3 linked regions of the Homo sapiens genome follow. The protein of the gene in region 1 interacts with the protein of each later gene in a biochemical or structural test. Each region holds a gene or a part of one and is shown in the gene's direction. Other genes may lie near its edges. The genes, in order: PHLPP1, USP46 and WDR48.

Region 1 (7,112 bases):
ATTTTTTTTAAATTTAAAATACAATTAAGTCTATTATACTCAGCCATCCAAGTAAACAGGTATTATTTAAAAATCAAGGTAACACTCAACCTGTCAAATAGGTACATGGTCAGCTTTCCATTTAGAATCAACTTTTATTTAACTATTTAGAATACAGCTTAACATATACTGATTGGGTTGAATTGTGTTTATTTTTAGAGTGTGTGTGTCTCTTCTAGGCAGAGTGCATACTGTCTAGGATTAGACGTGGGCGGTTTTTAAAGGAGTTAGCATAACGCAGTCACTAATATGATTCTTATCTTACTTAGAGATGGTGTAGAGGTCGTTGATAGGCCAAATGTAAGAGTGCACAGAGAAGTAAAAAATTAAAGATAGCTTCTTTAATTGCTTAAGTTGCTTGGGCAACTGTGAAAATGAAAGGGCTATTAACAAAAATAGAGGAAAAAGAAGTGCCAGTTTGGAATAAAGATGGTAAGTTCAGTTTGGGGCTGGAAATGTGGGGTAGCTCAGGAGAGGAGCCAGCATGTGATAGGACTGAGATAATTGCTCACATAGGAGTCAAAACATTTCCAAGGAAAACAGTGTAGAGAGAGCATGAAACTGCTAAAAAACCTATCTATGAAGATTACTTCAATTTGGGTTGGGGAAGAAAAGATGAAGAAAAGGAAGGTAATACATGAGAAGAGGGCTTAAGAGAGCTAAGAAGAAGGGTGTGTGGTCAGCAGCATCAATCAAGTACTGTATTGAGATCGACGAATGATAATTGGTTCTTTTTTGAGATAGAGTGTCACTCTGTCGCCCAGGCTACATTCCAGGAGTGCAATCTCAGCTCACTGCAACCTCCACCTCCCAGGTTCAAGTGATTCTTGTGCCTCAGCCTCCTGAGTAGCTGGGATTACAGGGGTGCACCACCAGGCCCGGCTAATTTTTTGTGTTTTTGGTAGAGATGGGGTTTCACCATGTTGGCCAGGCTGGTCCCAAACTTCTGGCCTCAAGTGATCCACTCATCTCGGCTTCTCAAAGTGCTAGGATTACAGGCCTGAGCCACCAGGCCCAGCTGATAATTGGTTCTTAAATTTGGAACTGCGAAGTCCTGGTTACCTTAGAGAGAGTATTGTTTTGATAAGTTTTTATTATTTCAGTTTTGGGTTTGAGAAACATGAAACAGGAGTTTTTGACTTGTCTGAAACAGCACCGACTCCAGAAGGGCTAACGCCAGCTCTGCCTGGTCCCTTTCCTCCTTCACTGGGGCCATTTACACTGTGTTAATTAAGCTAATTGAGATACTGCTAGAAAGCTTTCTCCAGCAGAATTCACTTCCTGAAATATTCAACCTTATTTTAGAGGGAAAAGTTTGTTTTTAGATAGAATGTTTACATTTTAGGTAAAACACTGGCCTTAGAGTCAGCAGATGTGCATTCCAGTGCTGCTGCTCCTTAACCTCTCTGGGGCCCCCATTTCCTCTTTAGTTGAATTTGGGAGTTGGGCTAGATTATCTCTTAGGCTATGCTAAAATTATGATGTTAATGACATTTGTCTCTTTTTTCCCTTTTGTTTTGCTTTATTGTAATAGGTTCACCAAGTTGAAGAGTCTTAACCTTTCCAATAATCATTTAGGGGACTTCCCACTGGCAGTCTGCAGTATTCCAACCCTGGCAGAGCTGAACGTGTCCTGCAATGCCCTGCGATCAGTCCCGGCAGCCGTTGGAGTGATGCACAAGTGTGTACTTCAAACCCCACTGGCGGGTATATCCAGAAGCCCCAGGGAAGCTGCATTGGGGGTGTGGCACATGAGATTAGTTAACTTGTTATGTTGCTCATGTAAGTCTTGGCCCCAAATCAAGAGATCAGGGACTATGTAGTCCGTATGGAGTTCATATGTTGGATTTGTACTCCTTACAGTCTTGTAAAAAAATTAAATATTCTTGTTTAGAACTGAAGATCCCTACAGATGAGTATGTCTAAACATGGAATGTGGGTTATGTTCTCATTTTTCTGAGTTATATTGAATTTTAAGACTTAGAAATTAATTTTAAGAAATAACAAGGAAAGCCCAAAGGATATCTGAATCAATTCATATCACAGTTAGCTCACATTGCTCCCATTTAAGCCTATTCAAATTGGGAAAACTAGTCATGATTTTCATTTTCAATAAAAGATTAAGATGCTTATCTCTGATTATTTCTCTTTGGTCCATTATTGCCTCAGGCCCTGCCCTTAGGCATTTTGCGAAGAATAATACATTTTCTGGTAATACGGTCTACACTTATGGAACTTGTATGTTGATAATAAAGATGTAAAATTTATATGTTCTCTTTGTAATTCTTATGTTTTCTCTAATAGCTTACAGACATTTTTGTTGGATGGAAACTTTCTCCAATCCCTTCCTGCTGAGTTGGAGAACATGAAGCAGCTTAGTTATCTGGGTCTTTCTTTCAATGAATTTACTGACATTCCCGAAGTATTGGAGAAATTGACTGCTGTGGATAAACTTTGTATGTCTGGAAACTGTGTGGAGACCCTTAGGCTACAGGCTTTAAGAAAAATGCCTCACATTAAACATGTGGATCTAAGGTAACCATTTTTGAGAAATAGATCTCATTTGAGTGGCTGGCTTATATTGCAGGGGTGGGGAGTAGGTTATTAACCAAGGCAAACAAGCTGGGTAATTGAATGTGGGCCCGTTTTTCTATTTCTGCCTAGAGGGAAGAATTATGATTAATAGTAGGGTTTGCTATTACTGGAAACTCTCACTGATGTATGTCTTGAAGGTCTTTGTTTTGCAGATTGGAACCCAGTTGAGTGAGAGAGCTGTTTTTTGTTGTTGTTGTTGGTTTTTGTTTTTTTTGTTGTTCTTGTTTTTTTTTTTTTTGAGTCAAAGTCTCGCTCTGTCGCCCAGGCTGGAGTGCGGTGGCCTGATCTCGGCTTACTGCAAGCTCCGCCTGCCAGGTTCATGCCATTCTCCTGTCTCAGCCTCCCTAGTAGCTGGGACTACAGGCACCCACCACCATGCCTGGCTAATTTTTTTGTATTTTTAGTAGAGACGAAGTTTCACTGTGTTAGTAGCCAGGATGGTCTCGATCTCCTGACCTCGTGATCCACCCGCCTCGGCCTCCCAAAGTGCTGGGATTACAGGCATGAGCCACCATGCCCGTCCTGTTTTTTGTTGTTGTTTTTAAAGAGATGGGGCCTTGCTCTCTTGCCCGGCCTGGAGTGTAATGATGTGCTCAGAGCTCACTGCAGCCTCAAACTCCTGGGCTCAGGTGATCTTCCTGCCTCAGCCTCCCAAGTACTCAGGCATGTTCAGTTTCATCAGTGTAAAGGAGCATCACCTTTTGCTCCCCTTTCTTCTCCTTTCATATGGTTCAGCCTAGGAAACCTATACATTCCAGTCCCATAAAGAATTGCTTGGCTTCACCTTTCCTCAGAATAAAGGAATCAGACCTGTCCCTCCTAGGGAAGTATTAGCAATTTGCAGATATAAAATTCTTAATTTGGAGGTAAAAGTGGTTATAATTTATCTGATTTTTGAGAATTTCTTGGAATGTGACAAGATAAGGAACTCTAAACACTTTGTTAACTTGCTTTCTAAATTGTTAACATTATTTGCCTCTTGAGTTCCTTGTATTTAGAAAACCCTCATATTCCAGAATTTGAGCCCTATTTTATTCATCCACCAGTGGTAGAACTTCATTAGAGCCAAGGACAATGGCTTGCACTGACCTCAGGTAGTAAGAATGAGATGATTTCTGAGTTACCTGGTACATGTAGGGAGACATCATTTTTCTTGATCTGAATTAGCTTACACATAAGATCAATCTGAAATGTCTGGAAGTAATAAATCTTAGTAAGAGCTTTATAAATTCTTCAGATTCATAGTTCTAACTTGAGTTTTTAGATGACATCACCTACAGGATATTTAAATACCAGAATAGACATTAGACACTCTGTAAATGTTGCATGACCATGAGTAACTGCTTCCTTCCTGGCTCCTGAGCTGAGGAGGGGAAAATCAGATAGGTTTGTTCTAATTCTGCCTTAATACTTTATTTGTTGTTTATTGTTTTTGTTTTTGCTTCTGTTTTCAGAGATAGAGTATCTGTCTGTCGCCCAGGCTGGAGTGCAGTGGCATGATCTCAGCTCACTGCAACCTCCACCTCCTGGGTTCAAGAGATTCTCCTCCCTCAACCTCCCGAGTAGCTGGGATTACAAGTGCCCGCCACCACACCTGGCTAGTTTTTGTATTTTTACTGAAGACAGGGGTTCACCATATTGGCCAGACTGGTCTTGAACTCCTGACCTCAAGTGATCCACCTGCCTCGACCTCTCAAAGTGCTGGAATTACAGACATGAGCCACCACACCCAGCCTAATTCTGCCTTAATACTTAAAATCAAAGCTAGTGGAGTAATTTAAGGAGAGTCTTGCTTAGTTTCTCTAAGTAAAGGGCCACTTTTATTCAATTTTTTTTCCCTTTAAATGGAAATGGTACATCAGATTGATTATTTTTTTCTTTGCATTGATGTTGTTTGAGTTTGATATTATTTCTTCTGTGGCATCATTAATAATTCCTCCTCCCTTCTCCTCTTTCTCCTCTTTGTACAAAGTGTGGCTGTTACTTCTTGGTCAGTTCTCTTTCTATCCATGTTTTCTGCCTTGGGGGTTGCATATACTCTCAGGCTTCATTTTCACCTTTCATCTTGATGTTAATCATTCCCCAGTCTTTCCCTATTCCTTCTTTGACTTCTTGAGACCAGTTCCACTTAAGCTGCCAGCTGGATAACTTCTTGGTTTTCCCTATTCACACATTTAACCAAATACATGTAAAACAGAGTTCAGTGTCTTTCTTACTCAACCAATTCTTTCTCATGGATTTCTTTTTTTGCTGATAGCAACACCACCTCATTGGTTTTCCAGACACACAACTCTTGGCTGATTCTGTCAGCTCTTCTTTTACATGAGTTTCTGTCTTTTATCCCTTCCTTTTTCTTCTCACTGTGACTGTTGTCTTCTACCTGAGCCATTTGCTTCCATTGTGCAGCCTCCCAAGCAAGCACAATTTTGCTCAGAGCCTGCGGTTCTCTAGTTCAAGGTACTCAAGCCCTCATATTTGGTTTCAGCCCACTGGTATGTGAGTCATTTGAGGATGAGGCTCTATCTCTGAGCTGCTCATGTGTGGGCCTCCAACCTGTGGTGGCAAGTTAACTATTTGCTACTTTTCCACAATGAGATGTGTACAGAAGTTAAGACTAATATTTTAGTAACATATAATGATTTGACATTGCCACAATATCCAACTGCATTACGAGTTGATTCTTGCTGTACAGGGAATCAACTAGTTTTTTTTATTTTGTTTTATTTATTATTATTATTATTATTTTTTGAGACGGAATTTCTTGTTGCCCAGACTGGAGTGCAGTGGTGTGATCTCGGCTCACTGCAACCTCCGCTTCCCAGATTTAAGCAATTTTCCTGCCTCAGCCTCCCAAGTAACTGGGATTACAGGCGCCCATCACCATGACCGGCTAATTTTTTGTATTTTTAGTAGAGACAGGGTTTCACCATGTTGGCCAGGTTGGTCTCAAACTCCTGACCTCAAGTGATCCAACTGCTTCGGCCTCCCAAAGTGCTGGGATTACAGCCATGAGCCACTGCGCCTGGCCTCAACTAATTTAGATGTTGTCAAACTTGCACAGTGAGTTGCATGTGATGTGAGCTGTGTATGGGTTGTGTACTATACATCAGTCTGTCATGAATTACAACTTTAGAAAATAGGTCTCCTTCACCATAGATAATTTAAGCACTGTTTTTATTTATCCTTCAACCCCAGTGTGAGTCCTTAGTAGGTCCAGTCCTTGGTTAATTGCCTCACCCACCTTTGTAGCACAGACCCTTGCATCCCCTGCCCTCCTGTAGAAGCTATTCAGGCAGGCACCAAACTTGCCCTGTGCTCTTCTGTTTGATGCAGAGGCTGTTCCATTGCTTCCTCGCACCTGCTTTTCTTCTCCCATGTACACCTGTTCCATTCTGCCTACTCTTGGGAATCAGATGATTTGCTTCCTTTTCCATAGCCTCTTTTTTAAAAAACCATTCTCTACATTTTATACATCATTCGTGGCACTTACCACATACCTGTAGTTCCTGTATTTTATAAAACATATTTGACTCTCCTTACTAAATTGTGAAATCTGTTGAAAAACACCTTGTTTTATTCATCTCTTACTGCAACAAAGCCATAGGTCATCATCGTTGTCACCATCACCATAGCCCTTCTACAGGCTGGAGTGCAGCGGTACAAGCGCAGGTCATTAGAGCCTTGATCTCCTGGACTTAAGTGATCCCCCTCCCTCAGCCTCCTGTGTAGCTGGGATGAAAAGTACACACTACCACACTTGGCTAATTTTTAAATTTTTTAGAGAGATGGGACCGCAGTTTGTTGCCTAGGCTGGCTCAAACTCTTGGGCTCAAGTTGTTCTCCTGCCTTAGCCTCCCCAAGTGCTGAGAATTACAGGCATGAGTAACCACGCCTGGCCAGAAGGGAATTTTCATCATATTTTGCCTTTTAAAAAGTTTGTCTGGGCCAGGTGCAGTGGCTCCTGCCTGTAATCTCAGCACTTTGGGAGGCCGAGGCAGGTGGATCACCTGAGGTCAGGAGTTCAAGACCAGCCTGGCCAACATGGCAAAACCCCGCCTCTACTAAAAATGCAAAAATTAGCTGGCTGTGGTGGCATGTTCCTGTAGTCCCAACTACTCGGTAGGCTAAGGCAGGAGACTTGTTTGAACCCAGGAGGCGGAGGTTGCAGTGGGCCAAGATCGCACCACTGCACTCCAACCTGGGTGACAGAGCAAGACTTTGCCTTAAAATAATAAATAAATAAATAAATAAATAAATAAATAAATAAATAAATAAATAAAAAGTTTGTCCTAGTTACATCATGGTGACTGTGGTCAACAATATGTTGTAGTTGTTTGTATTCTTGTTTTTTCTTTTTCTTTCTTTTTTTTTTTTTTTTTTTTTTTTTTTTGAGACAGGGTCTCACTTTGTTACCCAAGCTGGAATGCAATCACAGCTTGTTACCCAAGCTGTGGTGCAATCACAGTTCACTGCAGCCT
Region 2 (7,112 bases), on another chromosome or scaffold:
TTTGATGGGCTAGAGAAGCACCGGAATGATGTGCATTTTTCTTCATTTCTCTGTGGATCAGATGGTCACTGGTGTTTAGAGTAGTTAACTAGTTTTCTAATATGGTGAGCTGGACTCCAATACAGGGACATCCAGGCCAGTTCACGGAGCAGGGACCTTCTCACCCTCACCACTTATTCCAGAGGTGGCTCATCCCCAGGCAATGACTTGAGCCATCCCTCTTGTCCCTTGGCAGTTTGGAAACACATGCTACTGTAACTCCGTGCTTCAGGCATTGTACTTCTGCCGTCCATTCCGGGAGAATGTGTTGGCATACAAGGCCCAGCAAAAGAAGAAGGAAAACTTGCTGACGTGCCTGGCGGACCTTTTCCACAGCATTGCCACACAGAAGAAGAAGGTTGGCGTCATCCCACCAAAGAAGTTCATTTCAAGGCTGAGAAAAGAGAATGGTGAGTAGTATGCAGTATAATGTATTTAAGCCTCTGAAATAAGGAGAATTGATGGTTCTGTATCTCCTCAAAAGGAAGAGCTGGCATTTTTTTGAAAAGGGAAAATAAGCATGGTTAACTACTCGGTGTCATTTTTTAAGAAACAACATTTCTTCTCTGCCCAGTAAACTTAAAACAAAACTGGGTTAGAAACATGCTTAAAAACGCACATTTATTATTCCAATTTAGAATGACCATTTTATTTGCTCCATTCTGGGCAGGATCATTGTAAGAGAGAATAGTGTCCAAGGCAGCCTTCGGAGTGGGATACTCATTGGCCTAAATTGGTTGATGCAATAATTAAATAAAATAGTACTGGCTTATAAACTTGTCATAGGTGATTAAAATAAGTGCCTGTTATCTAATCAGAGCCTCTGCTGTTTTAAATACAATACCTCTGATTTTCATTTGCCTGAGGTAATTGAAGGATATCAAATTGATTGCTTTATATGGTTTTTAAAAGTCCTGATTTTTCTGGTTTTTCTATCTTCTTCTTCTGGGGGATTGGTAGTAGAAACTAGGTGTGTATTCCAGAAGTTTTGTATTGGCAGTTTTTATGACTATAAAGATATTTGTTATGGCAATTACTATTTATCTTAGATTCAGCCTTACTTCATCAGACGTGCATGGTTAATCAGGTATTTGTTTTATAAAGTCTCTTTTAATTTGATTGCTGTATTTTGAAGTTACAGTTTATACATACCAGATTAAAACTAATTTCAGTGGAGAAGGAAGCAGAGCACTCTGTCGAGTTGTGAACGTGATTAATAATGAAGGTTCACAGCTGCATTCATCTCTGATTGTTTGTCCTTATGGCAGGGAGCAGCACTAGGCTTCTGGAATCATTTGTATTTGGTTTCGGAACACTATCAGATAGATGCTTGCTCACACATACCCTCATCTCCCTTCTGTGTTTCATCTAAGCTGCTTCCAGGCTGGTCCAGGGTTTAATATGATCTTTGGGAGGACACCCCAGTTGCTCTGAATAAATTACCCAATGAATAATTAATTGATCATTGGTAGTTACATCATATTAAAAATTGATATTTTATCAGGGAACTTATCTGATAACTTCTGTTCCTTTGTAGAACAAATAGAACTTTTGGTAGTTTTATATAAATGTGATGACTTTAGGGAGATACGGGAAATTTTGTTCTTGGTGCATGGCAGAAAATGGAAATGAATTAAAAAAGCTCTTTGGAAACTTACTCATTGAAGCTGCCTGGTAGAGATGAGTATATTTATATTCCATACCTGTCCATCCTTTCAATATAAAAGTTGAAGTATGGGCCAGGCGCGGTGGCTCACGTCTGTAATCCCGGCACTTTGGGAGGCCAGGGTGGGCAAATCACAAGGTCAAGAGATTGAGACCATCCTGGCCAACATGGTGAACCTGGTCTCTACTAAAAATACAAAAATTAGCTAGCTGGGTGTGGTGGCATGCACCTGTAGTCCAGCTACTCAAGAGGCTGAGGCAGGAGAATTGCTTGAACCTGGGAGGCAGAGGTTGCAGTGAACTGAGATCATGCCACTACGCTCTAGCCTGGCGACACAGCGAGACTCCATCTCAAAAAAAAAATATTTAAGTATGGCATGTAACACTAATTACATCCATTTGCTTTTCAAGAACCAGAGACTGAAATAACCACCTTCTCCTTTCCAGATCTCTTTGATAACTACATGCAGCAGGATGCTCATGAATTTTTAAATTATTTGCTAAACACTATTGCGGACATCCTTCAGGAGGAGAAGAAACAGGAAAAACAAAATGGAAAATTAAAAAATGGCAACATGAACGAACCTGCGGAAAATAATAAACCAGAACTCACCTGGGTCCATGAGATTTTTCAGGGAACGCTTACCAATGAAACTCGATGCTTGAACTGTGAAACTGTAAGTACTAGGGGAGCTCTTATGTAGCTCGCATGTTCATATTTATGTACGCTATGTTGCATGTGATTGCAATGTCGTATTATAGCATTTAGCAGTTATTTGCAGTGTATGTAAATAATCCTATTTATGCATATGAAACTCAAGTACAAACTTTTGGAAGCACATATCCATCCAGGATGTCTCAGCAGGCCAAAGCTGAATAATAAAGGAAAATCTCCTCAAATGCTGAATTGCTTTACACCATGGGGAAATTTTGGGGTCTACAGATTTAATCTATTGAATTGGATGTCAACCAGTTACCTTGCAAAGATTTTGGTCATGGGGAGGTCTTGTGTGATGTAGAACAGGACCATCACCCCAGTTTAGAGGCAGTCAGCTGTGGTATGTTGAACTTGAAGTCAGAAGACAGGCTAGACTCCTGTTTTTACAGCAGTTAACTGGGTATTTGGGGCGAGTTACTTACAGCACTGTTTTGAGGGTTGGATGAGCTTATGTGTTTGGATGGGTCTGACACATGGTAGGTACATAATGTTAATTGAATTTGAAGACATGTTCTCCAGAGCATGATTCAGGATGTCATATTTTCTTGGCATGTTTAACTTCAACTCTGTGGGTGGCCTCATATTTTGCTGCTTAAGAGCTGAGCTCTGGAGCCAGGCTGCCCAAGTTTGTATGCTGGCTTTTCTGCTTGTTAGCTAGTGGAACCTGTGCAAATTATTAATCTTCTCTGTCCTCACTTTCTTCATCTATAAAATAGGGATGATGAGAATGCCCATCTTGGAGGGTTGGTGGGAGGATTAAATGAGTTGACACCTAGAGCCATGCTTGGCACATGGCAAGTAGGCAATAAATGTCAGGTATTATTTTTTATTATAACTACTACTGACAGCATAGAAAGTCTATGGGTTCATTAAGGATCTCAGAGTTTCCTGACATTGTATGGAAAATTCTATAAGATTGTGCATTTTTCTGGAAAGAGAGGTAGTAGCTTTTGTCAGATTTTGCAAAGAGCCTGTGTCTTAGTCTGGTCTGCTACAACGCAATCCCTCATGAGTTGCTTAAACAACAGAAATTCATTTCTCACAGTTCTGGAGGCTGAAAGTCCCAGATGAAGGTGCTAGCAGGGTCAGGTTCTTGGTGAGGACCTTCTTTCTGCCTTGCAGACAGCTGTCTTCTGGCTGTGTCCTCACTTGGTGGAGATAGAGAAAGCAAGCTCTCTCGGGTCTCCTTTTATAAGGGTACAAATCTTATCATGAGGGCTCCACCCTCATGACCTGTTTGCCTCCCAGAGGCCCATCTCCAAATACCATCCTATTAGAGATGAGGGTTTCAAAGTATGAATTTTGGGAGGACACAGACATTCAGTCCATTGCGAGCTGTGACCCAGAAATGTTTAAGAAATGTAGACTTACACATCAACATCTATGTAAAGGGAGAAGTTTTTAGGTTTTGGCAGTCTTTCTTCCATGCTTTTAAACAATTTTTGAGTCAAGCATTCTGTTTTACCCATTGTAGAAGCAATGAGAAAACACAGCTAAACAAAAAGAGACTAAAAGTTACCGGTAATCTTCCCACCCAGAGATGGTGAATTTGTAACGTTCTAAAATTTGTGATCACATTAGCCCAGAGATAACCACTTGAACATTTAAAAATATATCCTGTCAAAACACTTTCTGCACATAAATATGCCAATAAGTATCCAGAGATCTTCCCTCCCTGCCACTGTCTCTGTATTGCTTTCTCTTCTTCTCTCCCTCCCATTTTCCCTCTGTTCCTTTCTACTTTACATTCCAGTAAAATTCAAATGAATACAAAAGTAGAGGCAGTAGTATGGTATTTCCCATGTGTGTATTATTCAGGATCAGTGATTGTTAACACTTTGGCCAATCCTAATCCTCCCCGCCAACCCCCCAACCCCAACACACCCTTTTTACCTTGCAATTTATTTTTTAAAGAAATCAGGGTGTTTGTCCTATAGCATTTCCCACATTCTGGAAACATTCTTGTGGTGTACTTTAACATGTATGGTAAAATGGCAGTATGTTTCTACCACCCTACTCTTTGTTTTTATTTTTATTTTATTTTTTTAATTTTTTTTGAAACAGAATCTCGCTCTGCTGCCTAGGCTGGAGTACAGTGGCTTGATCTCAGCTCGCTCCAACCTCTGCCTCCCGGGTTCAAGTGATTCTCCTGCCTAAGCAGGAGCTGGGATTACAGGCGCCCACCACCACGCCTGGCTAACTCTTGTATTTTTAGTAGAGATGGGATTTCACCATGTTGGCCAGGCTGGTTTCGAACTCCTGACCTCAAGTAATCTGCCTGCTTTGGGCTCCCAAAGTGCTGGGATTACAGGCGTGAGCCACTGCACCTGGCCCCTACTTTTTGTTTTTATTTAATTAATCTATTTTATATTCATTTTTCTCTCTTCTTTTGGATCAATGAAATATTTTTCATTTTTTTGGCATCTAATGTATTACATTTCCAAATTCATTTAGAGGTTGCTCTAGAGATTACAACATGCATCCTTGACTTATTTCATTTTGTTTCCACTTTTCCAACAGTTAGAGCCTTTAATATACTTTATCGCCCTCTGTCTTTTGTGTTACCATTTTGTGATGAACTCATGAATTTTAACATATTTCATGTGTTTTAATCCATTATAGTTTTTTATTCCTTTTGATATTCAGTTTATTTTCAGAATAACTTTGTATACGTTTAAACATCAAAATTAGGGCTATATTGTAAATATGACAATTGACAGATTTTCAGTCTTTTTCATTTAATAAGGGTGTACTCCTTCTCACCATCCTTACCTCACCTCTTAAATCTATTCTGTTGCCACTCCCTGTCTGCTCTATCTCCCTTAAGATACTTTTCTTCCTCCCTGCTACTCCCATCCTGGCTCAGGCACCCATCAACTCTTGGCTGGCAGTCTCAACTAAACTACTGTAGTAACTCCTACTGGATTCTCTGTTTTTTCCTCTGGCCTTCCTCCATGTTACTCTCCTACCTAAAGTACAGTAGTGGCCTGCAGTCTCACTGAAAATACCACTGCCTACAAATTCTTATGTAAGCTGGCTCTGTCTGTCTCTGCAGGGTCATCTTTGCCATTCTGTTTCTTACTCTAGCTTCAGTGTAGCTTCTCAAGCCTTTCAAATCCCTTCCTGCTTCAGGTCCTTTGCACATGCCACTTTCTGTCTGGAATGCACACCACCTGCCCCTGTTGCTTGACTAAATCCTCTTCAGGTTTCAACTTGTGTTAAAACCCGAGAGAGGCCTTCTCTGAACTTCCAACTTAATGAAGTCACCTTGTATCATCTTACAATAGTCTAATTTTCTGTGATAGCACTTTGTTGTATTTATATATTTATCTATATGTATTTCGTATGCAGCATCTATCTTTCTTACTAAACTGTAAGATTGATGAGGACAGGGATAGTGTCGGTCTTGCTTCTCTCTCTGGTGCCCAAGGAGTATTTGACATATAATAATTAATAAATAGTTGAGTGAATAAATAAATGAAAATGTTTGTCATGTTTCTTGAAGAAGAAAACTATATGCTATGGGAAAAGATTTTGATTTATTTCATGAGGTAGAATTGAGGAATGATTTATAGTAAAGCCTGGTCTAGACTGGTAAGTCTTGAAATTATTTTTTAAATTAGGAAATATATCATTTTTTTAAAGAAGTATATGTGTGTGTGTATAACGTATGTTTATATATAGGCCACATATACATTTTAAAGAATAGTTTAAAAAATCCATATGCCCAACACCTATAAAAAAATGGAACATTAACAATAACTTTGAAACCCACTGTGTACTTCTTTGCAATTTAATTTTCCTCTCAGTCTCATCCTTTGCCCAGGAGGTGATCACTGTCTTCCATTTTGTGTGTCAATACTATCTTTTCTTTGTAGTTGTACATACATACGCATGTGTATTTCTAGACATTTACTTAGTTCTGCATGTTTATGGCTTTTATATAGATGAAATCACATACATGTATTCTTCTAAACTTGCTATTATCATTAAAGGTTATATTAATATTTTTGAGAATTGGCCATTTCTTGTAGCATGGTTCATTCATTGTTATCATTTTGTAGTATACCATTGTAGGAATATACTGCAGTTTGTTTTTCTGTTCTTCTATGGTGTGTCTAGTTTTTGGCTTGTAGACAGTGCTGCTACAAACTATCTCCTGGTCCCCATGGGCAAAATTCTCTCTGGGGTATCCTTTTGGGAGCAGAATTGCTGGCCATAGGGCATGTGCATCTTCAGATTTCCTAGGTAGTGCCAAATTGTTTCTAAAGTGGTGGTAAGTTAGTTACATTAGTAGAGGTTTTTTTTTTTTTATGTGTGTGAGACAGACTCTTGCTCTGTTACCCAGGCTGGAGTGTAGTAACACGATCTTGGCTCACTGCAACCTCTGCGTCCCAGGTTCAAGCAATTCTCCTGTCTCAGCCTCTGGAGTAGCCTGGATTACAGGTGTGCACCACCACGCCCGGCTAATTTTTGTATTTTTAGTAGAGATGAGGTTTTACCAAGTTGGTCAGGCTGGTCTTGAACACCTGACCTCAGGTGATCTGCCCACCTCAGCCTCACAAAGTGCTGGGATTACATACGTGAGCCACAGTGTGCAGTAACATTAATAGAGTTTCTAATGTTGACCCCACTTTGTATTTTTGTAATAAACTGAATTGGGGCTTTATCTTTTATATACATTGTTGGA
Region 3 (7,112 bases), on another chromosome or scaffold:
AGAAGTGGAATTGCTGGATCCAAGGTTATGCACATTTTAAATTTTGATAGATACTGCCAAATTGCCCTCCACAAAGGCTGTAGTAGTCTACATTCTCACCAACAGTGTATGAGTGCCCATTTCCCCACACCTGCACCAACACTGGATACTTCTAATCTTTGCTAAAAAATAGGCAAATAGTATCTCATTATTTTTATGTGGATTAAAAACAAATTAATAGTGAGGTTAAGCATCTTTTCATATTGGCCATTTGTTTTTCTTCTGTGAATTACCTGTTTGTATTCTTTACCCATTTTTCTATTGGGTCATTTTTCTTACTGATTTGTGGGGTGGTGGTTTATATTGAATATTAACCCTTTAACTATTATCTGTGTCTCAATTAAATTTTCACTTTGTTCCTTTTGCCAGGTGAAAAGTTTTACTTTTTATATAATCAAATTGATCCTTGATGGCTCTTAGTTTCATGTCTTGTTTAGGTATTTCCTACTCCAAAGTAACAAAAATATTCTCCTATATTCTCTTCTAGTTCTTTTATGATAATTATGTCTAGCTCTCTAATCTATTAGAATTTAGTCTTCTGTTTGGTGTGAAGTAGGATTTAGACTTTTTCCAAAGGGACAGCTAGTGTGCTAGCACAATTTATTGAAAATCTGTCCTTTTTCTACTTATCTGGGATGCTATGTTTATCATGTACTAAATTTCTGTATACACATGGGTCTGCTTCTAGACTCTCTTATGTACTGTTGGTCTATTTTGTATCTTTCTAAAGCCATATGAAAAGGAATTTAATCTTTAGAACCTTCAGAAACTTTATTTTCTGTCCCGGATATACCTCTAAGACTTAAAGCCAATGTGACACCTGATGGATATTCCATGGTCTTCTCTATGCCTGAGCACCCCATAAGCCACTAATTTCTTTGAGTGTGAAACTCACCTGGGACGCATTGCTGACTTTAGCCCTGTGGCTTATTCTTGAGAGGAGACATCCAGACAGGATGTGACATGAAGGCTTGGAGGGGATTAATACCCTGAGAAAAGATGACCACGTAATTTTATCCTTCATCTAAGAATGTGGTTTACTTCATGGTAGACATCTGGGTTCTTGGCTGAAGTTTCCACTCTTTCTTAACACCTCAGACCTCACTGTGATGTCAGAGGGAAAGAAAATGGGAGGACTTTGATTGGCCTTTTCAGTTGGATGATGGGCCTCACCAGCACAGAATGTGTGGCTTTGCTCAAAGGTGAATGCTGTGGGTTTCTCTCAAGACACTTAAGTTTTTGTTTGGGCCTTTAGGTATCAACTCCAATATTTTAATGTAGAATTGAGATTCTGGTTTGTATGGCTTAAAAAATTAAAGTTTGTTTCCCTTTAATACCTTGTACTGTTATCTAAGAAGAGCCATGCTACAATTTCATATTACCTCTAATGTTACATATATTTTTCTGATGAATTTTCTCGAAGGCTGACTTAGGTAATTTGATAGCTTACTATACATTTCATAGAAAGTCACTTTTAATTGTAAGATAATTATTACTTGCAAGTCATGTTTTCCTATTAACATTATTTTCATTTATCAACTAATAGAAACTGTTATACCTTTTTAACTTTTACTGTTTCAGAAAAATATGCCCAAATTCAACAAAATTCCTTTCTACCTCCAACCTCATGCATCTTCAGGAGCAAAAACCTTAAAAAAGTAAGTAAATATATGGTTTCTTGATCTAATTAACTACTAGAGAGAATTCCTTTTCCTTATGATTGCTTTTATAGCAAAGGAAGCAAATACCAGATCTAAGGCTGATTTTATAATATTCAAAGTTTATACAATTAAACCACTTACCAGGTACCAACTTTGGCCGATTACAGGTGTTCAAAAATAAATAAGGCCAGGTACAGTGGCTCACGCCCATAATCCCAACACTTTGGGAGGGTGAGGTGGGAGGATTAATTGAGGCCAGGAGTTTGAGACCAGCCTGAGCAACGTAGTGAGACTCCTGTCTCTACAAAAGATTTAAGTAAAAAAATTAGCTGGGCATGGGAGCACACGCTTGTAGTCCAAGCTAGCCAGGAGGCTAAGGCAGGAGGATCATCAGAAGTTTGAGGCTGCAGTGAGCAAAGATCATGCTACTGCACTCCAGCTTGGGCAACAGAGAGAGACCCTGTCTCTAAGAAAAAAATGATAAATAAAACACACATTTTGTCTGTTGCCTTAATTCACAGTTTAGGACCCAACCTGTATATAATAGTTGTTTTTATGGATACTTAAGGAATAATGAGAGTGAGAGAAATAAATGAGCTTTTGGCTGGAGCTTCCCAGTAAGGCTTCTTGAAGGACGTGGAATTTGAGTTGGACATGTAATGATTGGTAGAACTTCAAAAGATAGATATTCCAAGTCCAGGACACAGTGTGATCAGGGATGTGGAAGTGGGAGCATGCATAAGATAGTGGAAAGTAACGTGAGGACCCATGCACCTGCAGCATGGGATGGAGGGGCAGCAGGGGGATATTAGGAGGTAAATTGGAAAAGCAGTTAAAGGTTTTGTTGATGTTGGATTTGAATGCCAAGCCATAGAGCGTGCAGTGACTAAACACCAGAAACTTTTGAGCCAATGTGGGATATGGTCCAGGGAGACCCAAGAGAAGAATTTTAGTAGTGTAGTAATGGGATGCTAAACTATGAACAATATGTATTCTAGCAAATAAAATAAAAAAAATTTTTAAACCTTTTTATTACAGAGATTTCCAAACTTATATAGAAAGAAGCTAGTGAGCCCCCATCGTCCCATCAGATAGCTTCAGTAATTATCAATACCTTGCTAAACATTTTGCTTCACCTATACCTCTACCTGCCCTCCCACCCATCTCTGTCTACACACACACACACACACACACACACACACAATTATTTTAAAGTGAGTCCTAGACATCAGTTCAGATAGATTTAACAACTGAAGTTCAAATGATTTTCAGAGCGTAGGCCTTAGTTTTTTGGTATAATAGTTATTGACTGTTATCAGAGATACAGAAGTAGGGTGTTGATGAGTCTAGTTTGGGACATACAGAGTTTGAGGTGCCTGTAGGACATCCAACTGAAGATACCCAACCAGCTGTTGGGTTTGTGGTTTAGAAGAGAAGGTTGAGACTCAAGGTCTAGACTCAGGCATTGTCTGCTCACAGGTGCTAGCTGAAGGCATGGCAGTGGGGAGGAGAGCCCAGGGAAAATTGAGCACTAAGAGTGTCGGACCCTGGTAAGCACTGGGAGCTGCCTGCCTTTCCAGAATTATTTAGTTTGCCCAGGTTCTGGGAAAGTATTCAAGGGAATAAAACCCAGAAGGCTACTATGTATGTATATGTAAATGTTTTTGTTTGTTTTTCTGAGATGGAGTCTCACTCTGTCGCCCAGGCTAGAGTGCAGTGGCGTATCTTGGCTCACTGCAGCCTCTGCATCCTGAGTAGCTGGAATTACAGGCGTGCACCACCATGCCCAGCTAATTTTTTGTATTTTAGTAGAGACGGGATTTCACCATGTTGGTTAGCCAGGCTGGTCTTGAACTCCTGATCTGAAGTGATCCACCTGCCTTGGCCTCCCAAAGTGCTGAGATTATAGGCGTGAGCCACCACACCTGGCCTGTATATGTCAAGTTTTAAGAACACATATTAATCTCATTTAGTTGTACATAAACTGTGTCTTAGAAGGACACTGTAGAAAATCTTTCCGCAGCTCTAAAAATGGATTAAGGTAATGACTAAAAACATTTATTGGTTTATTTTTCATCTTTAAAATGTTTGCATCAAAGAAAAATAATATGGAATAAATAATATCTAGTGATTTCCCTGATGTCACAATATGCCATTGCTTTTTTACAGAGATAGACTCTCTGCTAGTGACATGCTCCAAGTCCGAAAAGTTATGGAACATGTTTATGAAAAAATTATCAACTTGGATAATGAGTCTCAAACCACTAGCTCTTCTAATAATGAAAAACCAGGAGAACAGGAAAAAGAAGAAGATATTGCTGTGTTGGCAGAGGAGAAAATTGAACTTTTGTGCCAGGACCAGGTAAGTGGACTTGAGGACTACAGCCCCAATTTTTCCAGTGCTGGTGCTCATAAAGAGTTACATGCCTTTGGGTGGGGGGCTTCTACTTTTAGAGGGGCTCTAAGGAGCCCTGGGCCTCTCCTACCTAAAGCCCACCCTAAAGCTCCTCTTTACTGCTGGGGAGATTTTCAGAGAAGGGATACATAGACAAATGTGGATGTGCTGGTAGCTTTTTTTTCTGACAAGAAAAAAGACACATGGTCTTCTTGATTTGCAAAAAGCATGTGCCATGTTTATGATTTAGAGTGAAGGTGTGCGGAGAAATGGCAGAACTGTTTTTTAAATCAAGATGCACTCAAAACGTATCCTCAGAGGAATGGCTGAAAGATGGCCTGGTGTTTCTGGCATAGTCACAAAAGATGTACATCTCACTAAGCTCAATTTCATTCCCGCATGCATGGAAGCCGTGACAGCAAGAATTGGATACCAGGCATAGGGGAGGAGTGAGCAAGCTGGATCACCTGATGAGAGTCCCTGAGTTAATGATAAGGTTTTAGATATTAGAGACTTTGAAATTTTTAAATTTAATTTTGGCTATTCAGGTTTTGGATCCAAATATGGACCTTCGAACAGTGAAACACTTCATATGGAAGAGCGGTGGAGACCTCACCCTCCATTACCGTCAGAAGTCCACGTGAAGGCTGGGCTAATGCTCCTGGATATTCATTTACGACCTTCCTCTATGGCCCCAAGAGTAGTCCTAGGAAGCCCACTGATCCCCAACGGGAGCAAGACTTCTAACGGCTGATTGGTATGGACCGAGATTATCTTTCAATTGAAGTGACTAATCGAGATGTAATATAGAAACCAGTCTCCATGTGTAGATTAAGCTGTCCCCAGGGAAGCAGAGTGCAAGAGCAGAAGAGCCCCAAGCAGACTATGTCTTTCAAGATGTACAGAAGACTGACAACAGGCCAGTGCAGACTTTGCTTCCTCCTTTTGTTTCAAAGGACCTTATCTACCCATTAACACTTGTTAGAGACACCTCAGTCGGGCCACAACTGTCTCTGTTTCAACTTTAAGCCCACACACTCTGTAGCTTTTCTAAAACAGTACATTCCATTCATGCAGTAGATATGAAGGCTTTTTCCAAGTTTGTCATATAAAGTAATCAAATTGTTTTCACCGTTTAAGACAGTTATTTTTAATGGGAATTTGCTGTTGCACAATTTGAGAACCAGCCCATTTCATAATAAAAGATTAATGTTGGGCTTGTTGTTAATATTGCATCTCAGATGTGTTCTTGTAGGAAGATCTGTTGAAATTCCAGGTGCTGGATCATAGCACTTGGACTGTTGGGCCGGAGTTTGTGCAGCCCATGCCTAGCGATGCTGCACCTCCCATGATGTCCTGGCTTTGTGGCAACCCCAGGGAGGTGCAGCAGTTTCACTCCTTCCTCCACTGTGTCCAGTTTTATTTACACAAAGCGAGCTGAGACCACAGGTTCTTGCTCTGGATGAGCAGCATGACACCATCAAAATTTAAGACCATGATGAAATTTCAGTTTCATTCAAATGTTACCTAAAATTTATGGTGTCAGAATAAAGGGAGATCATAGTGAGTTAATTTGATATTCATATCCTGGAAGTATACATATTTGTTTTTCCAAAGTTTTATATGCAGGTTTTTGTTGTACCTGTATCCAGATCTTCTTTTCACTGTTCTAACAATCTAACACTTTCATAGAATCATTTGGATCTTGTATAGAGTGTAACTTATTGGGGATAAACACTTCAACTTTTGGCAGAAAATACTTTGGATTCTCCCCAAGGTCATTTGTATTCAGAGTAAATCAGTGGTCCACCCCCATAAAACTGTAAGACAAGCCTCCTGTATGAAGCCAGAAGCACAAGTGCCTTCAGAGGGCAGTTGATTCCAGTCCAGTTGCCTCCCTAGCTTGTGTGTGGCCTGCCTCCACCATAGCAGGGACTAGGGAGGGAGGCAGGGAACGTTTTTTCTTTTCTACATCTTCACAGGTTCGGCTGGGGGCAGCTGATAGGCCTAAGGCCATACCTTACTATTTAAGATACTCTGATCGCACAACTGCAGAGACAGGGTTCCCTCACTGCTAGTCAGCTTCTTTTGGAAACTGGACAGGCCATTGCCACCTGCACTTTGAAGAAGTGAGCAAAGACGTGGCCACATTTCTAATAAGTTGAAATGGTCTTTCTCCCTTCCTCAGAGAGCAACCAGCTTCTTTTTTTTTAAAAGTCCTTTCTATCTGTTGGATACAACAGTGTGCTTTTGGTGCACATTTTTTAGCAATAGTTGTGAATTAATGGCAAAGAAAAAAAAAATTATTTACCAGCCCTCAGTTGTGTTTGCCCGAGGGGCCTTTGAGCAAAGAAATGGGTTTTGCTGGGTCATTTTGCCCTGTGTGCTAAGCCTTGGGTGGCTGCATTCCCCTCCTGTCATAGATCTGACCCCCAGCATGATTGTATTTCTTTCCCCTCCAGTCAAACCGTAATACAGTTTCCAGAAAATTCGACAGTCTGCAATGCCAAAAGGGTAAAAATCTGTATTTCACAGTTGTATAGAATAAAGGCTTTAGTTAAAATATTTCAAAGTGTAGTACACATTTATTTTCATTTGTTATTTTCTTTCATAGCAGATTACAGAGAAAGAAAGAAACCTCTGGTTTCATGTTCTCCCTGGAAATATTAGCATTGATACCCATTTTATCCTCCAACTTATGGGGGAAGGGAAAGTAAAAGTGAGGGAGGGAAGAGCCAGAACCTTTGGGTGAGGGCAACTTTGGGTCAGACTGCCAGGCTACAGAGTTAAGGGAAGCTGGCCCCAGAACAGTCCTGTGGCGATTCTGTTCTACTTCCTGCATTCCAGCAGACTTGACACTGGGCTCCCAGACGATCCAGGACACAATGCCTCACTGTTATGCACACGTATCAGCTGCTCTGGTAGGCTTGACAAGGGTTTGCTTTAAATGAAGGGTTTGCTAATTTGGGACCCTCCCTCCATATAGTTGGCCTGTGCCCCCCAGAGCAGACATTCCT

The links.
Region 2: the proteins of PHLPP1 (region 1) and USP46 form a complex in vitro, tested with the Homo sapiens proteins (one study listed by BioGRID).
Region 3: the proteins of PHLPP1 (region 1) and WDR48 form a complex in vitro, tested with the Homo sapiens proteins (one study listed by BioGRID).

The regions. Positions count from the first base shown.
Region 1 is NC_000018.10:62,893,438-62,900,549, forward strand, and holds part of PHLPP1 (PH domain leucine-rich repeat-containing protein phosphatase 1), read left to right. Parts: intron 1-1,573; coding exon 1,574-1,720; intron 1,721-2,343; coding exon 2,344-2,574; intron 2,575-7,112. UniProt on the Homo sapiens protein: Protein phosphatase involved in regulation of Akt and PKC signaling.
Region 2 is NC_000004.12:52,621,287-52,628,398, reverse strand, and holds part of USP46 (ubiquitin carboxyl-terminal hydrolase 46), read left to right. Parts: intron 1-235; coding exon 236-449; intron 450-2,151; coding exon 2,152-2,381; intron 2,382-7,112. UniProt on the Homo sapiens protein: Deubiquitinating enzyme that plays a role in behavior, possibly by regulating GABA action. May act by mediating the deubiquitination of GAD1/GAD67.
Region 3 is NC_000003.12:39,090,005-39,097,116, forward strand, and holds the end of WDR48 (WD repeat-containing protein 48), read left to right. Parts: intron 1-1,620; coding exon 1,621-1,697; intron 1,698-3,869; coding exon 3,870-4,062; coding exon of another isoform or gene 4,063-4,248; exon of another isoform or gene 4,249-4,643; coding exon 4,644-4,739; 3' UTR 4,740-6,660; downstream 6,661-7,112. UniProt on the Homo sapiens protein: Regulator of deubiquitinating complexes, which acts as a strong activator of USP1, USP12 and USP46. Enhances the USP1-mediated deubiquitination of FANCD2; USP1 being almost inactive by itself.